2 separate regions of the Homo sapiens genome follow, and region 1 is linked to region 2. Evidence: fine-mapped expression QTL. Tissue or cell type: whole blood. Region 2 holds a variant in brackets; the other region holds the start of a gene. All regions are shown on one strand. Distances are from middle to middle.

What was found. PIP is the estimated chance that this variant, and not a neighbour inherited with it, causes the effect.
Region 1: SLC48A1 starts here. The variant in region 2 is the best candidate, but not a certain one, in a credible set for the expression of SLC48A1 in whole blood (TOPMed, PIP 0.65).

What each region holds. Positions count from the first base shown.
Region 1 is chr12:47,770,122-47,775,488 of GRCh38, reverse strand. SLC48A1 (solute carrier family 48 member 1) reads right to left here and starts at 2,251. Exons shown (of 3, transcript NM_017842.3): 1 at 2,049-2,251. The coding sequence starts at 2,184. RefSeq lists enhancers at 1,019-1,523, 1,524-2,030 and a silencer at 1,776-2,385.
Region 2 is chr12:47,801,116-47,806,482 of GRCh38, reverse strand. HDAC7 (histone deacetylase 7) reads left to right here. Exons shown (of 26, transcript NM_015401.5): 2 at 4,209-4,259. It overlaps LOC124902926 (a long non-coding RNA gene), which reads right to left. Exons shown (of 2, transcript XR_007063290.1): 1 at 3,824-5,367; 2 at 850-1,208. Among named protein-coding and RNA genes, the nearest start is that of HDAC7, 16 kb to the left of the region's middle. The variant C/T (reference allele first, on the strand shown) is at 3,059.

The DNA of each region.
Region 1 (5,367 bases), 31 kb after region 2:
CACTACCAAGCAGTTTTGGCTCTTCCACAGCCACTGTCAAAGATCAGACCATCAGGGAGATACCAGGACCCTACTCCAGCTGGCTGCTGCCCTAGCGAGCTGCTGCCCTAGCGAGCTGCTGCCCTAGCGCCTCTCTCTGAAGGCAGCTCCACAGCTGGCCTGCCTCATAGGCCAAGGGAAGCCTGTGGGGAGGGAGAGAGGGCAGAGTTGGGTCGGAAGAAAACCCCAGGCAACTCCCTAGAGTATAAGAAAGAAGGCCTTTTCCACAGCCCTCTAGGAGGCAGCTGGAGACTCAGGGAGTGGGCAGCACTGCAAGATTTCAGATCTGGAGGGAAGTCAGATGTCTTTTGGGGACATCTCCTCCCACTCCTAATAGATGAGGAAACTGTGGCCCAGGATAGGGTCAAACGGCCAGGTAGGGTTCACCTCCACTTGTACCAGGCCAGACTCAACACAACCAGCTGAGATCCCAGGCTGGCCCTCCCTGCTCATCCTTCTCTTGCCTTCGGTCTTCGCAATGCAATCATAGGGCTCTGACGCCGCCTTCCAGAGGGGAAAGCAACAGGGCCAATAGGAAACAAAAAAGTGGCAGGGAGAAGTGAACCTTGACAAACATGGAGGGTGGCGGGGTGCAGTGGGGAAAGGAACTAGGGCTCTGTAGATAACGCGCAGAGATGGGCCAGTTGTCCTCAGGATCCCACAGGTGGTGAGGCAGCTGGGCAGGCAGAGAACACCCTAGCCAGGGTGCCCATCCCCCCTTCTTGGTGACCCAGTGCTTTGTTGGCATTGTGTAGGGTGGGGCCCTGTATGCCCCTCTTCTAAGGCATTAACCCCACCTCATGCTGCGACTCTACCCAGGGATGGCACTCAGCACTCCCTGTGGCAGTGAGTAAATTAGTTATTTTTAGTTATTCCATTTAGGGTTCTTTTGGCCGAGGATTTTAGTAATGGAATATAATCATCATATGTAAAAGTATTATACGTATTTTCTTCCCAAAGTCCTTTCCCACACATATTATTTCATGTAGCTGTGTAATCCCGGGTAAGCAATTTATTTAACTTCAGGCCTCAGTTTCCTTATCTGTAAAATGGACATAATCGTAAGGCCTACTTCATGAGACTAATGTAAGGATTAAATGAAATAAGGGAAGCAGGTTGCTTAACATAGTGCCTGACACATAGAAAGCATTTTTTAAAATGTTAGAAAGTAGAGATAATATTTTTCATCTTCATACCAATTCTATGGCGCAGAGAGGTTAAACTGCGAGCCCAAATGTGCACAACAAGGAGCACTGGTCAGCCCAGAGCCCCCATCAGCGCACCGATGCTTCCCCTTCCCTCCCAGAAGCACAGAAAGGGCGGCTGGCCTGCAGGATTTGGCAGAGCTTGGCTGAGGAGCCACAGCAGACGGGTAGCAAAAAGGCACCAACATGGGTGGAAAGAGAATGTCCAGTTTCTATGAGATCCCTAACGCCGTCCTCCCTGTGGGTCTCAGCAGAGGGCTCTGCGGGGGAGCCCTCTGGAAGGAGGGAGATGGGCTTCCCCAGCCACCCCTAGCCCTCTTCCTTTCCCACTTCTTCCCTCTCTGCCCTCACCCAGCACCCAGGGAAGGGGCGCCTGGGGGGCAGGGGATCCCTCAGAACAACCGTGTGTGTGTGCGTGTGTGTGTGTGTGTGTGTTTGGGGATAGGAGGCGACCAGCGCCGCGGGCGCGCGGAGGGGACACTGTCGTGGGGCAACTGGGCGGAGGGCGACAGGCAGTGTGCCGTGACAGATAACCCGGGCGGCGCGGCAGGTCTGTGCAGCCGGCAGTGGCGGGCCGTCGGCACCCCCAGGTGGCGCCCGGGCGGGCATCGGGTCTCAGAGGCACCCAGGAATGCCCAGGAGCCCGGGCCCGCGTGGGGCCTGCCGCCGCCAACCGCTGTTTTCGAGTAAACACTCCACCCGCTCCGCGGGGAAGCGCCGCTCGCGGGGAGCGTCCTGGAGCAGCTGACGGCGCCCGCCCCGCAGCCGCGCACCCGCCCCGCGCCGCCCAGCGTCCCGGGGTACCTGCGAGCCCTCCCATGGCCGCGGTCCCCGGCTGTCGGTAGACCACCGTCCAGACGAGGAAGATGGAGAAGCCGGCCACGGAGCTGATGCCGGAGTAGGCGGCGCGGAGGCCGAGCTGCAGCCTGGACGGGGCCATGGGGCTGCGGCGCCGGGCGGGCCGAGGGCGAGCGCGGCCGAGAGTCACAGGTGCAGGGCCCGAAGCCGCCAGCCGGAGCCGCGGGAGCCGCCAGAGCAGCCGGCGCCCCGCGCTCCGCCCCCGGCCCGCCCCCAGCGCCGCCCGCACAGCGCCCTCCCCGGCCGGAGGCCGCCCGCGCCCGGAACCGCAGACGCCACCGCCGCTTTGCGAAGCTGCCGTGTCGTTTGGGGGAATGCTGCTAAAAAGGCGGATTCCTGGGCCCATCCCCAGACCCGCCGTGTCCGGATTGTTGGACCTTGGAAGGGACCGGAAATATGCCTTTATACGAGCGAACCGCGAGGATTAAAAATCTTTACCTCTGAGTACGATGCGTATTTTCGTTTAAAATTAAAATTAAAATTTCTTGTTAAAAATTAATAGGTAAAACTTAAGAAATATTAGAGTACGCTGTGAATAGAATTCCTTCCGCCCGTCCTTCTATCAACCAGGTTCCCTCCCACCATATCGCAGAGGATTTCTCCACACACTAAAGTCTGGGAACCCCTGCGACCATCACCTTCTGACTGCAAACATTCTATACATTCTATCCTCACGCACAGCTCCCCACAAATCCCTACTTTTTTTTTTTTAAACAGAGTCTCACTCTGTTGCCCGGGCAGGAGTACAGTGGCGCCATCATAGCTCCGCATCCTCCAACACCTGGATTCAAGCAATGCTCTCACCTCAGCCTTCCAAGCAGCCAGGACTACAGGTGTGTGCCACCACGCCTGGCTAGTATTTTTTGTTATTTATTTTTTGTAGAGATAGGGTCTCGCTATATTGCCCAGGCTGGTCCCCAACTCCTGGCCTCAAGCTGTCTTCCCACCTCGGCCTCCCAAAGCGCTGGAATTACAGGCTTGAGCCACTGCAACGGACCTCACCTTTCCTTTTATCAGCACAAGCCTTATCCTCCCAAACCCCTCACCCTGACCCTCGGGATCATACCATTGTAAGGAAGAGACAGATCTGTAGCAGGAGGGCACTGAGCTCCCACGTGAGCCCAGCTTCCGGCCGGGAGCTGGAGGGAAAATCCCAGCACAATAACAAGGGCTCTGCCACAGCACTAAGGATCCACATGGGGAGGCCCATCATATACCTGCACAAAACATAACCAATACCCCTTGCATTAGTTTTTTTTGTGTGTGTGCTGCCGTAACAAATTACCACAAATTTACTGATTTAAAATAACACAAACTTATTATTATTTTACAGTTCTGTAGGTCAGGAATCCAAATAATGGTCTCACTGGGCTAAAATCAAGGGGACATCAGGGTTGCCTTGTTTCTGGAGGCTCTAGGGGAAAATCAGTTTCCTTGACTTTTTTTTTTTTTTTGAGACGGAGTCTTGCTCTGTCACCCAGGCTAGAGTGCAGTGGCGTGATCTCAGCTCACTGCAATCTCTGCCTCCTGGGTTCAGGTGATTCTCCTGCATCAGCCTCCCGAGAAGTTGGGATTACACGCTTCCACCACCACACCCAGCTAATTTTTGTATTTTTAGTAAAGATGGGGTTTCACCATGTTGGCCAGGCTGGTCTCGAACTCCTGACCTCAGGTGATCCGCCCACCTCAGCCTCCCAAAGTGCTGGGATTACAGGTGTGAGCCCACCGTGCCCGGCCGCCTTTTCCAGCTTCTAGAGTGAGGCTACCCACATGCCTTAACTCCCTCTTCCTCCTTTTCCCTTCTAAGGACCCCTGTGATTGAGGGGATAGTCCAGGATAATCTCCCCATCGCAAGATCCTTAATTTTATCACATCAGCAAAATAAATCCCTTTGCCGTGGAAGGTGACATATTCATAGGTTCTGGGATGAGGACGTGGACATCTTTGGGGGCCATTATTATCCCACCCACCACACCCCCTCTGGAACATAAACTTCATGAGCAGGGACAGTGCCAGTTTTGTTCACATCAACATCTAAAAGCATGTCTGGCATATAATGACCCCTTAATAAATGTTTGTTGAATAGGTGAGTGTGAGTGAATGAAGGTAAGAATAAAATAAAAACAAAAGCAATTATACACAAGGAATCTAGACAGGGTGTGCTTAACTGCCAAACAAGGGATGTAAACCAGTGTTAAGCACATTTGCCTCACTCTAGAATAATCTGGGAGCTTCTTTAAAAATAAAAAAATAAACCCAGCCCCACCCCTGCCTATTAAATTTTGAATCTTGGAGTGTGTATTTTAATGAGAAGTGATGTCAAGGCTGTGAGCTCAGCAGCAGCCCTCCTTTAGGAGCTGCCGGTGGAGAGTGAGTGCTGGTCCTGTGGAGGAGGGAGCAAGCCCCGTGGTCCGGAGTGCATTTCCATGGATGGCTTCAGAGCTGGCCAGGATGGACAGTACTCCAGGCAGTGGGAACCGCACGTGTGATGGCGCAGAGGGAAGAAATAAAGCGGCCGCTTTGGGAAACTGTAAGTCGTTTGTGGCTGGAATGTCAAGTTTGAAGGTAGAGTAGCGGGTTTGGAGATTAGAAAGGTTCTGAACATAAAGGGCCTTGCATGCTCTGTTAAGAAGGCTGTCCCCCTCCCCTTGGGGCTGGGGGAGAAAACTCACAATTCTGTGTTTTAGAACTATGGCCAGAGTAATAGAGTGAAGGCGAACTGCCTGTGAAACACTAGAAGCAGAGAGATGAGTTGGACAAATTTCACCCCACAGTGCTTTAATTACCAGGTCTTTAAAATGGAGACTGCAGTAACACCTACTTCAAAGTGTTGTGATGAGGAGTGCCTGGAAGAGTGCCTAGCACATGGTAGATACTCAATAAATGTCAGGAAGTAGAATTAGTAGCAGCAGAAGGCTGCCATGGCAAGAGAGGATGAGGGGCTTCAGAGCTGGTCCAGGCAGAAGCAGAGAGAATGGAAGAGACGAAACTGCTTCAAGAGCTATTTCAGCTATCTGAACCTAAAGGTCAGGGGAGAATTCATTAGCTGAGCAGACAGAAGGAGGAGAGCAAAAATATTATGAGTGGACATATTAGGAGTATGGGAGAGCAGTGAGCAAGCTTGCTGTGCTGGAAAGTGAGATTGCGCAAGAAAAGAAAGAGAAATAATTATGTAACAGTAGTACTAGACCAGGTTGTACAAGGCTAAGGCCAGGCTTAAACATTTTTTAAATTGTGGAAACAATGAAGAGCTATTGCAGAGCAT
Region 2 (5,367 bases):
TCCTGACCTCAAGTAATCTGCCCGCCTTGGCCAGGGCAGAACTTCCCCAAAGTTCTGGGATTATAGGCGTGAGCCACCTCGCCCAGCCTGAAGTAGGTATTCTTATCTCCTGATTACAGGTGGGGCAGCTTAAGCAGGTTAAATTGTGTTTCTGGCTTGCTTTGCCAGTCACCGAGGGAGTCGGGGCTTAAACCCAGGCCCATCTGACCGCAAAGCCAATGTCCTGTGTGCTTTAGACCTTCAATTCCCTCACAGTTTGTGGCCTGCCAGACTTCATGTGGCAGGGGCTTCCAGCCCACTCTCAGCTCCCTGCTGGGTTCTGGATAAATCTGAGCAAGAAGCATTCAGTGCCAATCAATGAGCAGTATAGAGAATTTCTGGAAGGGAGACACAAGAAGCTGTTAGAAAGGGCGGCTTCCAGGGAAGTTCTAGGGAGTCTGGGATGAATGAGAAACTTATCCTAACAACTTTTGGGCTCTCTGAATTTTTTTTAGTATCTGCAAGTATTGTACTTGTTCAAATATGTTTAAGGCTGCAGGCTGTATTCTAAACTCCTTGAAAGTGAGAACCAGGTTTCACTCATATTTCCATCTTTTCAACCCCTAGATCAGTGACTTCCCAGGGAAGTAGTACCTGCATTTGGGGTTGACCTTTGGGTTTCCCCTGTACTGGTCTGGCCTGGCCTGGCTGGACCACTGGCTGGCTGGGTGGCTGTGACCTAGCCCCTTCTTTCTCTTTGCTCCTCTGTCAAATGAGAGTGTTGGTCTGAACGATCTCTAAAGCCTGGAAGAGGAGCAGATCCTCTGTGCTCAGCCCCCACTCTGTGTCAGGGAGGCCTGGCAACCACAGTGTTCTTTCTCCTGTTTATTTGTTCTTGGATCTTCCTGAAGCCATTTCACCACCAGCCTTCATCTTCTCTGCCAGCCCCATGGAGACTCAAGCTTTTTCCAGCCTATGTCAGGGAAGGAGAACCAGAGACAGCAACCTCGGGTGTGAAGGGAGTCAGCTCTGAACCCAGGACTATGGCCTTCTGCCACTGCCTGCTTTCCTCTTGCTGCTGGGGCCTAGGTCTTCTTGCTGCTGCTTCCTTTTCCGCTAATCAAGAGTCCAGGGAGGTGGGAACAGCCTCAACAAAGACTTTGAAGATGAGCGGGGAGGATCGCTTGAGCCCAGGAGCCCAGCCTGGGCAACAGGGGAAGACTTCGTCTCTACAAAAAAAAAAACAACAAAACAAAACAAAAAAAATTTAGCCAGGCATCGTGGTGCATACTGTAGTCCCAGCTACTCTGGAGGCTGAGGCAGGAGAATTGCCTGAGCCCAGGAGGTCAACGCTGCAGTGAGCCATGTTCACATCACTGCACTCCAGCCTGGGCATCAGAACAAGACCGTACCTCAAAAAAAAAAAAAAATTAAGAAAAGACACTGGAGGCATCGGGAGGGGGGCGTTCTAGGTGGCAGTGCTCCTGGGGAAGCCTTTTGTCCCACTGAAGACATGAAGCTCCTGGGAGAGCAGGTGGTCGGCAAGGCTCAGGTTTTCATCCACCTTTTGCAGATCTAGGAGGCAAAGTCATACCTGCTGGGGAGGGAGGACCAAGACTGGGGCCTGAGGCAATAAGGTAGGAGCAGTAGGGAGGTCAGTTTGTTCCAGGTGCTTAGAATTGTGTTTGTGTTTACTCTGGAGGTTGCTGAGGGCTGGGGTGCACCTATTGGAACAGGGGCTCCATAGGTTTCTGGGTAAAATCAGGTGTTCTGGTTTAAGAAGGTGACTTGGTAGGCCCACATGCCCCAGTGCCAAGTAAACTGTTCTTAAGTCTGACTGCAGTTGCCTCCAAAGAAGATAGAAAAGGGGAGTAGCCAGGATTCCAAAAAGAAGAGCTCTCCAACCTGGCAAAGAGCCCTGTGCTAGACAGTATTCCTGGTACCTTGGGTCCATTTACTTCTCTTTTTTTTTTTTTTTTCAGGCTGACCCCAAATTAGTAGTAACAGCCCTCGGAGAGAGGCAGTGATGGGAAAAGAGGTCCCACACTCAAGCCAGAACTGGGAGGCAGGATGTTCATGCTCTGGCTTCAGTTCAGCTACTGACGGGGTGCCAGTAGATACCTTTCCTCTCTCTAGGACACAAAGAGAGCTGTTCCTGGGTCTTAATCTCTGTCGCTCTGCGCTCTTCTGAACTTGATGGCCCTCAGCACGGGGCCAGGGAGCGGGGGAAAAGCAGAACTTTTTCCAGGAATTGCTATTGGAAGCAGCCCCGTTGCCAACACGCATGCACACATGCACACAGCTTTTCTGGACAGACCTTATATTATGGATTATCACCACAAAACATCCCTTTGGGGCCTGGTAGCCCACACCACAGAATTCAGGGTCATTAATTTTTCTCCTATCCAGAGAGTGCATGGTGTCCGGAATCTGTGGTTACCAGGGGAGCAAGGCACAGAGAACCTGGCTCTGCTCCCAAGCATGAATGCTGCTGACCAGCCCCTGGGTAGGGACTGGGGAGGTGGGACAGAATTCCCAGGAGGCAGGGGACTCAGCCTGACACAGTCTCTGGGAGTGCACCCTGGAGCCCAGTCCAGAAACCTCTGGGAGGACCAGGTCCTGCAGAAGAAAGAAGAGGTACTAAGAAGGCCTGGGATTGGGGGTTACCATGTCGTGGGGAGGGGAGTTTGCCTCTGAGGCCCACCACCTTGAGAAATATGCATGCTGTGTCTCAGGCAGGTTGTCAGGAGAGAGTCATTGTATTTGATTTGTCAGCTACTAACAGAGCCTGCCACGTGCCCTGCGAGGTGTTTGGTGCAGATGGGCATGGCTTCCACAGGGCACCACAGAGATCATGATGAATGAAGTGTCAAGGTGGTAGACACAGAGCGAGTGCTGTGGAAAAGGAAGAGGGGAGAGGTCAGGGAGAGCCTCCCAAGGAGATGGACTTGGGCTGGACCTCAGAGGATGGGCAGAATTTAAATAGGTAGAGCAGCATTTTCGGACCGAACTTTGTTACCCAAAGCATGGGCTGGTTTGAGGGGCAGTCGGTGGGAGTCTCCCTGTGCCCAGGCTGCCC[C/T]CTCCCCCAGCAGCGCCTGCCTGCAGGAAGTTCTCATTTCTCGGCTCTGAAGAGGAACTGTGGCTGCCTCTGAGACACAGACCCAAAGGAGCACCCCGGCAGTTTCTCAAAAAATATCCCTTCTGCCCCAAGTCTGGCCAGCAGAGCGCTTCTGTGTCCACCCAGTACCCCGTCCAGGCAGCCTCTGGGTCTCCTGGCCTCCTGTCCCCTTGACCCTGAACTGGACAGCAAGAGGGAAAGGTGTCTGTCCTGGACAGGTGGCCTCAGGACTCATCTCTGTCTTCTCCAACCCCAGCTGGCCTCCATGTCCCCTGGGGGCTTTCTGCTGCTGACCAGCTTGGGCCCTACTATAGGTTTTCTTGCTGGGCTTAGGAGCCTGAGAGAGGTAGCCATTTCCAAAAGAAAAGATTTCTATCTCAGATTATCTGGGAAAGAGGCTGAGTAGGTCCCTTCTCTGAGGAAACAGGCAGCAGGACATAGGATGGGGCAGTGGGAGGAAAAGGGTCTGCACTATGGGGTCCTTGGGCTGTGCACTCCTGACCTTATCACTTCACAGTTCCCACCAGATCTGACTTGACCTCCGGGCCATGACCCAGTCCCTCCCCCACTCTGGAAACCTCTGTGTCCCCTCCTGCTCCTTTCACTCCCACCTGGGAGGCTCTGAGCAGGCCAGGGTCCCTCTCTCCAGGCCTGCTCCTCCCTTTCTCCTCCTGTCCCCCCAGCCATCCCCCCAGCCAGGCTCTCCCACCTCTGGCCCCACCTCACCTCTTGGCCTTCTTCTTTCCCTCGGGCGATGGGAGCCTGGTTTGGCTGCCCAGGGAAGATTGTATCTGACCACAGGAGGGAGGGCTGAGGGCACTGCTGGGTGAGCTGAGGCCTCCTTAGGTTCTTGCTGTAGTCTGAGTTCAAGTCATTTAGAATGAGTGACTTGAGGAAGAGGGAGCTGGGAGCCCTTTTCACCAGCAGGGGGACTGGAGGAGTCGAATGGGGTGGGGTCTTCTCGTTTTGATTAGCTTCTGGTGGAGGTCCCAGGCTTTGGCGTGCTCAAGCTTGGAGTGGCAGGGAGCAGGCCTGGCTTGACCTTCTTTCCTTCCTGCTCCCTCTCCTCACCCCTCCCTGCAGCTCTTTCACTCCGTCTCTCTCTCTACAGATGGGACCCAGGTGAGCCCGGGTGCCCACTACTGCAGCCCCACTGGCGCAGGTAAGAGTCAAACCCGGGGGAGTCCATGGTAGGGAGTGGAAGATGAGGGGTGGAAAGGCTGTAAGAACGCGAGAAGCTGAGGGGTTAGAGAAGCAGGGTCGCTGGCTGATCTGCCAGAGAGCCAGGAGGTGGCGGCTCCAGGGAGGGGCGAGGAGCCGGGGTAAGAGAGGCAGCTCTGGATGCTGGCTGGGCACAGTGCTAGGAAACACAACAGGAAAAGGAAACACAGGATGCCCGTCTTGTCCTTGCTGGGAGCAGTGAAACAGGAAGGAAAGTAAGAAGCTAATATTTATACTGAGACCCCTACCCCATGTCAGGCACCAGGCAAGGTGTGTTCTTGTGTGTGGACTCGGTCCTCACACCGGCTCTGCAAGGTGGGCATGGCAGCCCTTGCAGGACTGCTCTGCTGGAGGGGAAGTGTTCTCTCACTGTCTGCGCCTCCTCCCTCTGCTGGCCCGAGCCTCCTCTGCTGCTAGGCTGCCCTGGGGAAGGACTGGACTTCCTGCTGCTGCTTTGGTTTAGGACATGCCCATGGGGCCAGGTCTGGACTAGACGCGGTCTGCCCTTCCTTTAGTGTAGCCAGTATCAACCAAGGGCCTACTGAGTGCAAGATATACAGCCTGATGCCTAATAATTCCATATAGCAGGGAGAAATGGAACCCAGGTATCCTCCTTGCTTCAGTCCTGGCTGTTGAAAAGCTAACAGGCAGGTTAGGGAGGAAGCACACACAAATACAAAGCGAAAAAAAATAGAATGCAATAATGTGACCAGTGCCCAATGAGAGGACACTGATTCATGAGTTTATCCATTTGTTCAAGAATCATTAATGAGTTCTGTCTCTGTGCCAGGGTACTTTCCTGGACATTTTAGGAGAGACACTGATTTATTCATTGATTCTATGTTTGTGGAGTGCCTGTCATGTGCTAGGTACTATTCCAGGTGCTAGGAATAATAAACAAAGCATGAAACCAACTCCCTGCCCTATGGAGCTTAACTCAGACATGGTACCTGCCCACAGAGCACTAATCCTGGTGTGGAACAGCCATGTGATTGGAGTCCAAAAGAGGGAGGGATGCTAGGCGCTGGCTGGGTCCAGGGATGAGGGAG